Linked DNA regions of Homo sapiens: region 2 is linked to region 1. Evidence: fine-mapped expression QTL. Tissue or cell type: whole blood. Region 1 holds a variant in brackets; the other region holds the start of a gene. All regions are shown on one strand. Distances are from middle to middle.

The links. PIP is the estimated chance that this variant, and not a neighbour inherited with it, causes the effect.
Region 2: MRPS25 starts here. The variant in region 1 is fine-mapped to the expression of MRPS25 in whole blood (TOPMed, PIP above 0.99).

Annotation. Positions count from the first base shown.
Region 1 is chr3:14,985,838-14,993,941 of GRCh38, reverse strand. All of the region lies in intron 1 of NR2C2 (nuclear receptor subfamily 2 group C member 2), which reads right to left. Among named protein-coding and RNA genes, the nearest start is that of FGD5-AS1, 41 kb to the right of the region's middle. The variant T/G (reference allele first, on the strand shown) is at 3,810.
Region 2 is chr3:15,060,398-15,068,501 of GRCh38, reverse strand. It overlaps MRPS25 (mitochondrial ribosomal protein S25), which reads left to right and starts at 3,187. Exons shown (of 4, transcript NM_022497.5): 1 at 3,187-3,441. The coding sequence starts at 3,308. RefSeq lists an enhancer at 3,028-3,207.

The DNA.
Region 1 (8,104 bases):
GACTGCTGTCCCTTGGCTTTGCTACCTTGCCTGAGGTACAGTTTAAACTCCCTGGATTTTGGCTTCCTCACCTGTTCAGGGATACATCTGCAAATTTTATTTATTCCCTTGATATGAGAAGCCCAAAAGACCTTTTACCTGAGAGGGGGCATGGGTCACACTGGCAATGGGCTCCCTGTAGGCTCAGTAATAAATTTAGATTGAGTGAATAGCCCTGAGATTCAGTGAAAAGACGACTAACTCTGGAAGTGACAGGTTAAACAGAAAATGTTTGGGATCCCCTACTCCTGAAGCCATTAGAAAAAAGGTATGTTCTAGTGGCACCAGAGGCAGCTGAGATATGGTCTTGCATGAAGGCAAAGTGATGTTATGATGGGACCGCTAAGAAATTCTTGCAGTTGTATGAATTTACAGTCTGATAATTATGAATAGACATCAAGGAAGGAAATTTACTTTTTTTCCAGAAACATTTCTTTTTTTTTTTTTTGAGATGGAGTTTTGCTCCTGTCGCCCAGGCTGGAGTGCAGTGATGCAGCTTCGGCTCACTGTAACCTCCGCCTCCCAGGTTCAAGCGATTCTCCTGCCTCAGCCTCCCGAGCAGCTGGGATTACAGGCACCCACCACCATGCCCGGCTAATTTTTGTATTTTTAGTAGAGACGGGGTTTCACCATGTTGGCCAGGCTGGTGTCGAACTCCTGACCTCAGGTGATCCGCCTGTCTTGGCCTCCCAAAGGGCTAGGACTACAGACGTGAGCCACCATGCTTGGCCTTTTTTCCCAGAAATATTTTATTGAGACTCATCAGCACAGCAATAAAAAGTCAGTTTGGTAAAAAGGATATAAAAATATTAGATGCATTTCTGACTAGTTGAAGCATTTCCTTTCTATTTTTTCCTGCCCACACCTCAGTGCCTAATGTCAGTCTTGGCTTCTGCCTTATCCTATTTTCTACCCTTTCAACCTGCTCAAGTTGCAAAGGACAGGATCACTTAGTTTACACTGTATAAATGCCTGACAACACCCAGGTGTGTGTTATACCTTGGTTAGGGCATTTTACCTTGACAGGAAAACTGCCAGTCCAAAGGACTCAATTAAAACCATGGGCAAGCTGGGTGTGAAATATCTTTAGACACAGGCCTTCCAAGGCTTGGTCTCCAAACTCATACTTAGAGGGTAAAATCATCTGTTCCATTTCACATCCTTTGTAAAGGTAACCACGCTTGCAGAACACACAAATGTTTTATTAAACACTAAATAATTTAATAAAAGCCATGCTCCTCTGGCCAGCCTTTCCTGACACCCCTCAGGTTAATACAAATGCCCTCCTCTGGGTTCCCACAGTCCCTGCACCTTAGTACTCTCCACAGAACACCACATTTCCTATTTCTCTGTTTATTCCCAAGGCCAGGCACATATTAGGCCCACAATGAATGCTTAGTGAATGAACACTTAGGGAATGAATACCTTAGGGGATGAATAAGCAGTCTCTGTCTTAAGCCTTTGATCCTGGGACTCTGCCTAGACTTTGCTTTGCTTTACTCTACTCTTGTGCCTGTCTGCTAATTACACACCCTGGAGGTACAGCACAACACCTGCCCTGGCAGTTCATTATATAAACCAAGGAGTACTGGCTTCCACCGACACAGGGGGGTTTATGAGGCTGCTGAGGAAGTTCATACATCTTCACCCTGGAATGAGAACCTCCTCTATTCCATAATGGCATGACATTGCTTTGGCAGCAGGGTTTTTGTTGTTGTTGTTTTTGTTGTTTGTTTGTTTTATAAGGAAATAATTGTCAGGAAAAATTTCTGACGTTTACATGGAATCACTTGCTGAAAAATGAACATCTAGGTTGAAGAAGATGCTCACAGGCCAGGTGCAGCGGCTCATGTCTATAATCACAGCAGTTTGGGAGGGCGAGGTAGGAAGATCACTTGAGGCCAGGAGTTTGAGTACCAGCCTGGACAGCATTGCAAGACCCCATCCCTACTAAAAATTAAAAACATTATCCAGGCGTGGTGTCGCATGCCTGCAGTCCCAGCTGCTTAGGAGGCTGAGGCGGAAGGAGCACTTGAGCTCAGGAGTTTGAGGCTACAGTGACAGTAAGCTATGATGGCACCACTGTGCTCCAGCCTTTGAGATAGCAAGACCCTATCTCCAAAAAAAAAAAAAAGAAAAAGAAAAAAAAAAAAGAAAAAAGGGATTAAAAAAGAGAAAAAGATGCTCATTTCATTGAATTAAATGTGCAATATTAAGAGTTTCCAAATCTATAACTTATTCTGGATTTTGGCTACAAAAATTCTCATGGGTTACTAATAGGATAACAGAGTTACACTCTGTGAAAAAACATTGTGCAGATCTAGTGTTACAAATCTCAAACAGGAACTCAGTACTTCTCAACACTTCAGTGAAATCATGAACAATGTAAAACCCTTAAGTAGGGTAAAGGGTGTTAGGCAGGGGACACCTCCAGCTTGAACTGAAATGTACCACATACCCTCCTTTAGTTTATTTCAAAGGACCATTAAATAGTAAGTGTGTTGAAGGGCCAATGGGCAAAGAGATTAACCCCCTTTGTGCAGCAACTTGCATCAGCGAGAAGAATCCACAGGAGGCTGCTGACTTTTATGTGCAGTTCCAGTCCTCAAAGGACTGGAACCTTACAATAACAGTGTTAGTAAAGAACTACTTCTCTTGATGACATATATATCCAGCTCTTCTTTACAGTAAAGCTAATGAGGGAATGAAACCTAAATATTATAAACCAGCATCATTTATATCAGAATTCATTAGCCAGTTTTGAATTTTACAGTTGGCAATAGAGATTTTAAAAAGGTAAAACTTAGCGCTAAATTTCTTGTCACAAAAAAACAAAAATCCCAAGTCAACAACCACTCCCCACAATTATGTAAAACAATGAGATATTTAAGAGCAATATGGTTCATAAACTGTTCACAGGCAGAGTAACCTGCCAAAAACAACAAACAACTTTTGCCCCACCTGAATTTAGCCAGCATATTCAAATACAAGTTCCTATTAAGAAACGATTTGCTAAGAGCTTAGCATAGCAAGACATTAAATTGAATTTCTTCAAATATACAATAGGTGTCTAAATCCACTGCTATTATACTAACTGCTGTAAAAATAAGTGACTACTGAAATACATTGCATTACAAGGCTTCTCCCCCAGAAACACAGGGAAAGAGAATAGACTTCAATACTGCAGTCTTGTTTTCTTTAGGACACTCACACTTACCATGCCAATGGCTCCCTGCAGCTTTATTTATATTTTTCCTCAGCAACCTCCCAGGCCAAAGAGAGTCCAACCCAAAAGGCCAGAGGTTGGTTGAGGGAACTCACAGGCATTTGCTTTCAAACCCTGCCAGTGCAGATTCCATTCACCCAAACCAGACAGGGCTGTTTAAAGATGCCCTCTCTGTGACCCAGCTCTGCGGAAGGTCAAGTACACTATCACTGCCTGTAACCAAGGAAGCAAAATCGACATGTTCCTGCTGTTTTGCCAGCTGCTGAAACAGTTTGTCTAATAATATGACTAATTGCTTCTAGGGAAGATGTACTCTGCTTTACAAAGTTCTCCCTTCACCTAGATTGCTGCCACTGTTAAACTCTCTCTCCCTCCACCCCTTTCCCCTTAAAGATCACCTTTCCTCAACTGAAAGTTCACAAGAATGTTACCATGGAGTCCAACCAACTCAAAACATTTTTAAACCTACAAGGAGAGGAGGAAAGACCTGGAGAGCCCAGAAACACCATGTTCTGCATATAGCATCTTCAACCTAACGGTGCAG[T/G]AATCTAATATTCTTCTTTTTATTAAATAAAGACAAGGTCTGGCTCTGTCACTCAGGCTGCAGTGCCAGTGGTGCAATCATGGCTCACTGCAGCCTTGACCTCCTGGGCTCAAGTGATCCTCCTGCCTCAGCCTCTCAGAGTAGCCAGGACTACAGGTATGTGCCACCACACCCAGTAATTTTTTTTTTTTTTTTTTTTTTTTTTTTTGAGATGGAGTCTTGCTCTTGTCGCCCAGGCTGGAGTGCAATCTCGGCTCACTGCAACCTCCATCTCCCAGGTTCAAGCGATTCTCTTATCTCCACCTCTCGAGTAGCTGGGATTACAGGTGCCTGCCACCACACCCTGCTAATTTTGTATTTTTAGTAGAGATGGGGTTTCACCATGTTGGCCAGGCTGGTCTCAAGCTCCTGACCTCATGTGATCTGCCTCCCTCAGCTTCCCAAAGCGTTGGGATTACAGGTCGTGAGCCACCACACCCAGTCAAATTTTTTCTTTAATTTAGTTTTTGTAGACACAGGGTCTTACTATGTTGCCCAGACTGATACCTGAACTCATGTGATCCTTCCACCTGGGCCTCTCAAAGCACTGGAATTACAGGTGTGAGCTACCATGCCTGGCCCTAATATTCTTAAAGATAGGAGGTCTTTACAAGTTCCTCTTTCACTTAAAGTGTAGGCAAGAATATATGGACTGTGTTACATAGAAAAGACCCACAAGAACAACAAAACTGGGCTCATTTAACCATATCCACCCAACACGCACCGGGCACATGAATACAAGATTGAGTTCTGGACTCAGAAGCCTCCCATTCTGGCAGGAAGATACGCAAATGTAGTCAGAGCAAATGAAGAACACTGTAATAGGTCCACAGAATGACTTCAACTCTAAGTCCCACCCCTTCCCCAAAGCCACTGAGGGGAGGGAGCTCCTGAAGTCACAGTGCATTAGTGGTGAGGCTGAAACTAACACCTAGGTTCTCTGGCTTTGAGACAAGAGCACCTGCCACTAAGGCAGGCTGTAGCCCCCTGATGGACATGGGGACTCATTACTTGGTTTTTATACCTCAACAACTGATATGAAGTGAATGCTGACCAATCAGCAAAAACAAAACAAAAGCCTAGGGGAAGAGTAGGAGAAAAGAGGTATTACGGATATTTACTTTTACATAGGGTGGAGAAGGAGGCTGAAAGAAAACATTTGAGAATAAATTCACACTGCTATAAATGATGAAATTTCCACTCCACACATACAAACAGAAGTTTGCATGTGCACTAACATAAAACAATTTATGGTGAAATAAATTCACCATATGTGATGAATGGATGAATATGTCATCCATTTTCAGATTCTAGCACAAACCCAGGCACCGCTATCTAAAAGAGAAAAAAAATTAATCAAGAGGGGAAAAAAAAGAGATGATGATTCTCCTTTGACTATAAGTCCCTTCACCTCAACAACTATTTAAAGTTCTAAGAAACAAAACACTCTATTCACTAAGTGAATAAGTACAGCCAATAAATGTGCTTTACGTATGTGTAAAAGGAAAGATTAATAAAGGAAGCAAAAAGTTCCAAGACTAAACCATTGAGGTCAAGAGATCTGGTCCTTCATCATCAGAATTTGCTCCTGCCCTCTGGCCTGATAATTATACTTCTGGGAACCCACGTTATATAAATTATCCTAAATATAGAAATGGCTTTATCAGTGTGTGGTCCTAAATTATTTTTCTAGGAAATATAAGAATTCCTTCTCCCAGTGGTTTGGGTGAGGCAGTGCCTCTCTCTACCTGTAAAAACAGACAATACCAGATATTTGCAGTCCTGCTTCCCTTGGAGGAGAGCAGGGGGTCAATAAGATTCACTGGTCTGAGAGACTTGGCACTGGAAGCTGGAGGTCCATCTCCAAGCTTTGTGGTACTGGCTGTACAGCCATAGCTTCACGAGACTGGCTCTGCAGTGTGATTCTGGGTGTTGTTCCAAGCTGCAGAGCTACTTCTCCAGTTCTTCCACTGTAAAGTTTACCTGTCTGTCTATATATACATCTGTCTGTCCATCTGTGCATCTTTTCATCCTCACATGAATATACTATTAATTTATAATACAGAAAGATCAAAAGCAATTTATATGTCCCAAACTAGGAGACGGGTTAGTAAATTATGCTATGTTTCCGGGATACAGAAAAATAATGATCAAAGCAGGTTATGTGGCAACCTGGGGAAAAGATGATATTTATTCTGTGTAATAACATTTTATAAAAACACAAGACACAAAGTTATATGCACACTGTGATTACAACCAGATGATATGCACGTGAGAAAAGAGCAAAAGATTTATTCATTCAATAAACGTATCTTGATTGCTCACTGTGTTCCAGGCACTGTATTTCAGGCACTGGGAACACAACAGCAAATGAAATAAAGTTCTGGTCTTCCTGGAATCTACATTCTAATGTGATAAACAAATTAAGTATATATGTTTGTAGATAATGAGAAGCATTATGGAGGAAGACAAGTACGAGTAAGGAGATTAAGAAGTGACAGAGGTAGAGGTGGAAATGACTATTTTTACATAGTGTGGTAATAAAGAAATTAACAACTTTTATAATTAAAAAAAACTTTCAAATACAAGGCTACCTTTTAAAACCAGCAAATATTGCTAGAAATTAGCAGTATGAATGATCTTATTTTCTACCCCACATCTGAAATTACTGGTGTTCTTCATATTTTTCTTCACTTTTAAAAGAAAAACTTGGCAGGGCATGGTGGCTCATACCTCTAATCCCAGCACTCTGCGAGGCCAAGGCGGAAGGATTGCTTACGCCCCGGAGTTCAAGACCATCCTGGGTAACACAGAGAGACCTCATCTCTACAAAAAATAAAAAAACCAGCTGGGTGTGGTGGCATGTGCCTGCAGTCCCAGCTACTTGGGAGGCTGAGGTGGGAGGATTGCTTGAGCCCAGGAGATTGAAATTGCAGTGAGCTGTGTTCCTGCCACTGGACTCCAGCCTGGGTGGCAGAGTGAGAATCTGCCTCAAATAAAATAAAAAATAAATAAAAACTCTTCTTACCCATCTAAGAAATAACACAGAAACTTTTTTTCTTGGTAAAATGAGGTATAAAAGTCTACTGTGAAACATAATTATCAGTCTCCTTGCCTATTAATTGCTACTAAAGATTTAAAAAAACTAGGCTGCTTCTGCAATTACAAAGCTAACCTGAATCATCCTGGTGGGCAGCTGATTACATGGAAACACACTACACTTAGAATTACGTTCACGTTTGGGTGGCACTCCTATTAACAATTTCCCTGAAGAAATCAAGTGCAATGCTCAACCTGTGACCCTGAATAAGATGTTATCTTCTCCCATAGCAGATGCTAATTTTTGATTTTTTATTCTGGTAGACAAAATGCTTTCATTTTCTAATTCTCTATTTTCTGTGACCAATAAAAGGATATGCTTTCCAAGGTCTTTTTTAAAGTATCAGACACTAAAGGTATACCTCAGACACAGATTTCAAGAAAGGAGATGTTCTCTATGACAGAATGTCATTACTCTGTGGCAAGACATACCGTAAGAAATCATTTTGGCACAACACTTCCACATAAGGTATGGATCTTTTGCAAGGACATCATCCTTCCTCAATTTTCTCCTTCTTAATAACTCCTCCTGTCAACCGTTTTTATCATAAGTAAGTCTAGTCTCACTTATTCTAACATTAATTCCATTTAACATTTATTCCAGCTGACTCTACATTTCATCTACAAAACAATTGTATCTTCTTAGTACCCTTATTTAAGTATGTACTTACTTAAGAAGTATGTGACTTGTCATATCATCTTTGGTAGTTATTCCTAAGCATTTACATGAAATACACATTATTTCATAATAGGCTGCTTTCCTTTTATTTCTCCTGAATATAATTATTATTATATATTGATTTTTGTAAGTTATTTGCATATGAATGCTTTTATTTTCTATGAGTATCACCTTGGTACAGTAAAAGGGTCTTTAAAAAAATACTGTTTAAAAAGGGGGCACTGAGTCTGAAGGAATTGGAAACCCCTAAGAGGAAGGTTCTCACAGTATGTACTCGATGCATACCTGCTGAATTAATAACTGATCTAGTTAATGGTGCTACTTCTTGCATATGAAGTTATGTGACTGTTAAAAAACTGTTGGGAAAAAAAAGAAAAACCCTTAGAAGACACACTTTGACCCAGATAGCTTTTAATTTCAAATTCTACTTCTAGTCTACAGAGATACTCCCACATATGAGCCCAAGGAGGCATATATA
Region 2 (8,104 bases), 75 kb before region 1:
AGGGGAACTAAGAAACACTTGTGGGCCAGTGCGGTGGCTCACGCCTGTAATTCCAGCACTTTGGGAGGCCAAGGTGGGCAGATTGCTTGAGCCCGGGAGTTCAAGACCAGTCTGGGCAATATAGCAAAACCTCATCTTTACAAAAAATACAAAAATTAACCAGGCATTGTGGCACATGCCATAGTCCAAGCTACTCGGGGCTGAGGTGGGAGAATTGCTTGAGCCTGGGAAGTAGAGGCTGCAGTGAGCTGTGATTGCGCCACTGTACTGCGCTCTAGCCTGGGTGATAGAGCAAGACACTGCCTCAAAAAAAAAAAAAAAAAAGAAAAAGAAAAAAAAAGGAAAGAACACTTGTGTAGGTCACAGCCCAAGGACACAAGCCCACTAAAATGCTGAGATTTAATCGTAAGATTATAGAATGCTTCACCTCCCCCATGTTTTTCCACCACATCAACAGGACTCCAGGATAGTAACAGTGAATTATACCTGGAAGAGCTGCAAGACACGGACTCTCTCAGGAGGAATATCGAGGGAAGCCCAAAGGCAAGAGGAGATAAACACAAAGACACTAGAGGAACTGGAAGCCTCTGACACCTACAGCTATGGCAAACATTAAACACAGCTCTCAACTCTGAGCCAGATTAACATAAGTTCTCATTCTAGAGGCTTATTTACCCCAGTTCCTATGGCCCAATAGAGTGGATATTCTACCTTCAACAAAAAAATTATAAGCATGCTAAAAGGCAAGGAAAAAAATAAACCCAACAATCAGATGAAACAAAGCAAACATCAGAATCACACTCAGATATTGGAATTATCAGACAAGAAATTTAAAATGTGGTCTGTTAAGGGGTCTAATGGTAAAAGTAAACAACATACAAGAACAGATGGGTAATGTAAACAGACATAAGAAAACTAAGAATCATGCGAGGTGTGGTGGTTCACACTTGTAATCCCAGCAGTTTGGGAGGCTGAGGCAGGCAGATCACTTGAGGTCAGGAGTTTGAGACCAGCCAGGCCAACAAGGTGAAACCCCATCTCTACTAAAAATACAAAAATTAGACTGGGCACAGTGGCTCATGACTGTAATCACAGCACTTTGGGAGGCCAATGCGGGTGGATCACGAGGTCAGGAGTTCAAGACCAGCCTGGCCAACATGGTGAAACCCTGTCTCTACTAAAAATACAAAAACTAGCTGGGTGTGGTGGTGGGCACCTGTAATCTCAGCCACTTGGGAGGCTGAGGCAGGAGAATCATTTGAACCTGGGAGGCAGAGGTTGCAGTGAGCCAAGATAGTGCCATTGCACTCCAGCCTGGGTGACAGAGCGAGACTTCGTCTCAAAAAAAAAAAAAAAAAAAATTAGCCAGGCATGGTGGTGTGCACCTGTAGTCCCAGCTAAGTGGCAGAGGTGGGAGAATTGCTTGAGCCCAGGAGGTAGAGGTTGCAGTGAGCAGAGATTGCACCAGTGCACTCCAGGCTGGGTGACAGAGACTTTGTCTCAAAACAAACAAACAAACACCCTAAGAATCAAAAGGAAGTGCTAGAAGTTAAAACCTTAAATGAAAAATGCCTTAATGGGCTTATCAGTAGACTGTCCATAACCAAAGATTAAATGAATTTGAAGATAGGTCAACAGAAACTTCCCCACTAAAATGCAAAGAGAACCTCCATCACCCCGCCAGAACATTCGAGAACTATGAGGCAATTCCAGAAGACATAAAATGCATTTAACTTGAATACTAGAAAGAGAAAAGAGTGAAGAATAAATACCTGAACTAATAAATGGCTAAGAACTTTACAAAATTAATGACAGACATGAAATCACAGATCCAGGAGGCTCAGAGGACTCCAAGCAGGACAAATACAAAACATCTACAGATCTGCATTACCTTATTCTAACCCCGTAAACCAAACACCAAGAGAAAATTTGAAAGAAGCTAAAGGAAAAAGCCATCATACCTATAAATGTAATTGCATTTAATTACTTGTTTGAAACCATGCAAGCAAAAAAAGAGTGGAGTGAACTATTTAAATTGTTGAAAGAAAAACACCAGGGCCAGGCGCAGTGGCTCACGCCTGTAATCCCAGCACTTTGGGAAGCTGAGACGGGCGGATCATCTGAGGTCAGGAGTTTGATACCAGCCTGACCAACATGGAGAATCCCCGTCTCTACTGACAATACAAAATTAGCTGGGTGTAGTGGCGCATGCCTGTAAGTCCGGCTACTCGGGAGGCTGAGGCAGGAGAATCACTTGAACCTGGGAGGCGGAGGTTGCGGTGAGCCAAGATAGCACCATTGCACTCCAGAAGGGAGGGAGGGAAAGGAAAAACACTAACCTAGAATTCTAAATCTGGCAAAATCACTCTTCAAAAGAGAAGGAGAAATACCTTTCAGATCAAGAGTACTTCAGAAATGTATCTTTTTTTTTTTTGAGAGGGAGTCTTGCTCTGTCGCCCAGGCTGGAGTGCAGTGGCGCGATCTCGGCTCACTGCAACTTCCCGGGTTCGAGCGATCCTCCCACCTCAGTCTTCTGAGTAGCTGGGACCACAGGTGCTGCCACCACACCAGGCTAATTTTTGTATTTTCAGTAGAGACGGGGTTTCGCCATGTTGGGCAGGCTGGTCTCGAATTCCTGACCTCAAGCGATCCTTCCGCCTCGGCTTCCCCAAAGGCTGGGTTTACAGGCGGGAGCCACCGCGCCTGGCCCTAGAAATACATCTCACCCATAGTTTGTTTACGAAAAAATTGAGGTCCTGAGTTAAGTGGCTGAATTTAGGAAGGAATTGATCCCAAACCATCTTTTTTTCTTTTGCTAAGAAGTTTAAGTCAACGTCAGAAAGTGCAGTTTGAACTCTTCATGATAAAACTGGAGATGTTTGGGGAGAAAAATGGACAATACGTTCAATAGGACGTTATCAGCTGACTTGGTATCCAAACTGAGCTTTCCTGATTATTTCTTATTGCAATGTCTGACTTTTAGCCTATGTAAAAATATTTTCCCGTGGGTGGATGGGGAAATGACTAATTTACAGGACGCGACAACCTAAACCTTCCAAGGGGAAGGCGTCCTAAAGCGAAGCTGCACACACCGGTTCTCGCCGCGCCGGGTCGAAGGCCGCCTACAAGTCCCAGAGTGCTCCGCGGCGTGCGCTGCCCGCCGGGAAGCGTCTCCTGTGCGTCTGCGCGGGAAGTGGAACCTGGCTCTGGGGAGAAGCCGCGTGAGATCCGCGCGGGTGCTAGCTAGTCCTTTCTCGTCGCTGCTCGGCTCGCGGCCCGTGGGGTCGGCCCCGCCACCGTTGCCGCCATGCCCATGAAGGGCCGCTTCCCCATCCGCCGCACCCTGCAATATCTGAGCCAGGGGAACGTGGTGTTCAAGGACTCCGTGAAGGTCATGACAGTGAATTACAACACGCATGGGGAGCTGGGCGAGGGCGCCAGGTCAGTCGCAGCCCCGGCCGCCTGGCGAGCCGTAACCTGCTAGTCGTGCCAGCCTGCTGGTAACGTGAGGTCCCGAGTCGCTCTGGGCGGCCGTTCATCCCCGGGGCGGGCCCCCCAGGTCGGCGCTGTTACCCCCATTTTACAGAGGTCCAGACTGAGGCGGACGGCGGGGCCCCCGCCGGGCCGGCTGCAGTCGTGACGAGGTTTGGGGGGCGGAGGACAAGAACCCCACTCCTGGATCTCCTTCCTCCGGCGCGGTGGGCGAGGCTGACCCGAGGGAGGCCACCAGTTCCCTTGGCCCCTCTGGCCAGCAAGGCAAGCGCTGGGGAGGGGCAGCCGCAGATCCTTTCGGGGTGACGGGGGTGACACCCCAGGACGAATCTGAGGATAAAATGAGAGAAATAACAGCGGCGAACACTGATCATATCTCGCACAGTTCTGAATGCTTCTCGCGCTTTCTTTTTTCTGATGCCTAGAGAAACCCCAGCTTATCCCCACTCTAAGGCTGGGGAAGCGCACAGAGAGGTTAAGTAACTTGCAGCTCCACGAGACACCATGCCAGCCGGTGAGCGGTGAGCCGGGCAGTGTGGCCGCTTCCTTCGGGACTCAAGGTTTGGAAGGAAGTGATTAATTATGTCAGCTGTGCAGCGGCAGACCCTACCCCGACTAGAAGGAACTGTAGGGAACGCCTAGGATGTCTTTCAGCTTGGAGCAGAGTAGGGACTCATTGAATGGCAGTTGGCAAGTGAAAGGTTTGGATTGACCCTGAGGCAGCCCTAAGCAGTGCCTTAGGCTCTGCAGGTATGAAGTCTACATTTATTGAGTACACTCTGAGTGCTAGGCTGTGTGCTGTGTGCTGGGAGTTCAGCAGTGATGGAGGAGGCAGCCTTAGCCCGCAGAAACTTTGGGACTTGGGTGTATGTTGGATCAAAATGAGGCGTGGGGGCGGGGAGCAACTTCTTGTGGGGCATGGTCCCCTTGGTGACGGACCTTCACTGCATGGCCCTTCAAGAGATCCGGAAGCCGCTTCCTAGCCATTTGCTCTGCGCAGGTGAATCTGATAACTTGGACCTGCTTGCCTGGAATCAGCTGGCTTGATGGCTTCCTGGAAGACTTGGTCTTGGTCTTAGGGTGTATGGGCACCCAGATACTCCTTCATAACCTACTGCACAACTGTGCACACCTTTGTCCCCGGGCAACTGCCAGGCAGATAATGGGAAGGGGTGGGGGTCTCGGTGCGGCCCGCAGCGAGCTGGAGAGCACATGCCCTATCCAGAGGGCCCTTCACTGTTTGGCATTGTGGGCTCCGTGGAGAATTTCTCATTTGTCAAGAAGCTGAAATCTAGGTTTTTATGTAAATCTCTGGCTTTTAAATGGCCAGCCAATCAAAATAAGCCTGTGAGCCTCTTACTTACATTCTCAGATATTTTAATGTCCTCTAGGTAAATGGGATACAAACAGCCATTCACTGTTTCTTTGTTCCTGGTGGTAGGGGCTGGCCTGTGCCACCTGTGCCCTCTGTGATCTTGTACCCGTGGGTTGGAGTCTGTCTGCCTTGCTCTGGCTAGCCGCAGTCCTCCCCCAATCCCCAGCCCTTGTTTGTTCATGTGCCCTCAGCCCTTCAGCTGCCCCACTGGGACCTACCTCCATCCCAAGTGCCTGCGACCGGTCCAGCCAGTCTTTGGGTACCTGCTGGGGGCAATGGGAAGGTGCCTTATTTAGTATTTGAGGGCCAAGTCCTTACTCACCTCTGCCAGGTGTTCTACCCTGAACAAGTGGTCCCCAAGCCTCAGGGTGAATTTGATGGTGACAGAACAGTGTGATCGAAGGCCAGACTAATCAGCCCAGTTAGACCTGGGGCAGTTTACTTAACTTCTGACCTTAGTTTCCTTAAATTGTAAAACCCCACCTTCTGGGGTTGGAGAGTCAGGTGCCTAGCAAAGTGTCTGGCATATACAGCAGTTGCTCAACTCAAGGTTCCTGCCATTATTAACTTTCTTTTTTTTTTTTTTTCAATTGATCATTCTTGGGTGTTTCTCGCAGAGGGGGATTTGGCAGGGTCATAGGACAATAGTGGAGGGAAGGTCAGCAGATAAACAAGTGAACAAAGGTCTCTGGTTTTCCTAGGCAGAGTGTTTGTGTCCCTGGGTACTTGAGATTAGGGAGTGGTGATGACTCTTAACGAGCATGCTGCTTTCAAGCATCTGTTTAACAAAGCACATCTTGTACCGCCCTTAATCCATTTAACCCTGAGTGGACACAGCACATGTTTCAGAGAGCACAGGGTTGGGGGTAAGGTCACAGATCAACAGGATCCCAAGGCAGAAGAATTTTTCTTAGTACAGAACAAAATGAAAAGTCTCCCATGTCTACCTCTTTCCACACAGACACGGCAACCATCCGATTTCTCAATCTTTTCCCCACCTTTCCCCCCTTTCTATTCCACAAAACTGCCATTGTCATCATGGCCCGTTCTCAATGAGCTGTTGGGCACACCTCCCAGATGGGGTGGTGGCCGGGCAGAGGGGCTCCTCACTTCCCAGTAGGGGCGGCCGGGCAGAGGCGCCCCTCACCTCCTGGACGGGGCGGCTGGCCGGGCAGGGGGCTGACCCCCCCCACCTCCCTCCCGGATGGGGCGGCTGGCCGGGCGGGGGGCTGACCCCCCACCTCCCTCCCGGACGGGGCGGCCTGGCCGGGCAGAGGGGCTCCTCACTTCCCAGTAGGGGCGGCCCGGGCAGAGGCGCCCCCTCACCTCCTGGACGGGGCGGCTGGCCGGGCGGGGGGCTGACCCCCTGACCTCCCCTCCCGGACCGGGCGGCTGGCCCGGGCCAGAGGGGCTCCTCACTTCGCATTAGGGGCGGCAGGCAGAGGTGCCCCTCACCTCCCAGTACGGGGCGGCTGGCCGGGCGGGGGGCTGACCCGCCGCACTCCCTCCCGGATGGGGCGGCTGGCCGGGCGGCTGAGCCCCCTACCTCCCTCCCAGACGGGGCGGCTGGCCTGGCGGGGGCTGACCCCCAACTCCCTCCCGGACGGGGCGGCTGCCGGGCGGAGACGCTCCTCACTTCCCAGACGGGGCGGCTGCCGGGCGGAGGGGCTCCTCACTTCTCAGACGGGGCGGCTGCCGGGCGGAGGGGCTCCTCACTTCTCAGACAGGGCGGCTGCCGGGCGGAGGGTCTCCTCCCTTCTCAGACGGGGTGGCTGGGCAGAGATGCTCCTCACCTCCCAGACGGGGTCGCGGCCGGGCAGAGGCGCTCCTCACATCCCAGATGGGGCGGCGGGGCAAAGGCGCTCCCCACATCTCAGACGATGGGCGGCCGGGCAGAGACGCTCCTCACTTTCCAGGCTGGGCAGCCAGGCAGAGGGGCTCCTCACATCCCAGATGATGGGCGGCCAGGCAGAGACGCTCCTCACTTCCCAGACGGGGTGGTGGCCGGGCAGAGGCTGCACTCTGGACACTTTGGGAGGCCAAGGCAGGCGGCTGGGAGGTGGAGGCTATAGCGAGCCGAGATCATGCCACTGCACTCCAGCCTGGGCACCATTGAGCACTGAGTGAACCAGACACCGTCTGCAATCCCGGCACCTCTGGAGGCCGAGGCTGGCGGATCACTCGCGGTTAGGAGCTGGAGACCAGCCCGGCCAACACAGCGAAACCCCGTCTCCACCAAAAAAATACGAAAACCAGTCAGGCGTGGCAGCGCGCGCCTGCAATCGCAGGCGCTGGGCAGGCTGAGGCAGGAGAATCAGGCAGGGAGGTTGCAGTGAGCCGAGATGGCAGCAGTACAGTCCAGCTTCGGCTCGGCATCAGAGGGAGACCGTGGAAAGAGGGAGAGGGAGACCGTGGGGAGAGGGAGACGGAGAGGCAGAGGGAGAGAGAGAGGGACTTAACTTTCATCTTGTGTTTCAGCAAGAACCATTTTAAGATCTCTGTTGCATTTCTGTCCTAGTAGTTTAAAGTATGGGAACGTCTCACCTGGCTATGTCCTAGTTTATTTGTAAAAAGTTCTGTGACACTGGGATACTCTGCAGTGGGGTGGGAACTGATCAGAGGCCTGCTACGCCCTGGAAGGTAAATTCAGCCTTTGAGCTCCCAGGTCTGTGTGCTGTGAGGGTCTCCAAGGCCTCTATTCCTCCCCTAGAGGCAGCAGTTTTCAAGGCTTAACTATTTATTTATTTATTTTTTGAGATGGAGTCTTGCTCTGTCACCCAGGCTAGAGTGCAGTGGCGCGATCTCGGCTCACTGCAAGCTCTGCCTCCTGGATTCACACCATTCTCCTGCCTCAGCCTCCTGAGTAGCTGGGACTACAAGTGCCCGCCACCACGCCGGCTAATTTTTTGTATTTTTAGTAGAGACGGCATTTCACCGTGTTAGCCAGGATGGTCTCGATCTCCTGACCTCGTGATCCACCCGCCTCGGCCTCCCAAAGTGCTGGGATTACAGGCATGAGCCACCGCGCCCGGCGGCTTAACTATTTAATTTGAGTCTTATACCCATATAGTTAAATAACATCCTCAGAGAGCCACTTTTCTTTTTTTTTTTTTTTTTTTGAGAGAGGACCTTGCTCTGTCGCCTAGACTGGAATGTGGTGCAATCACAGCTCTGGCTCACTGCAACCTCAAACTCCCGGGCTTAAGCGATCCTCTTGCCTCAGCCTCCCAAGTAGCT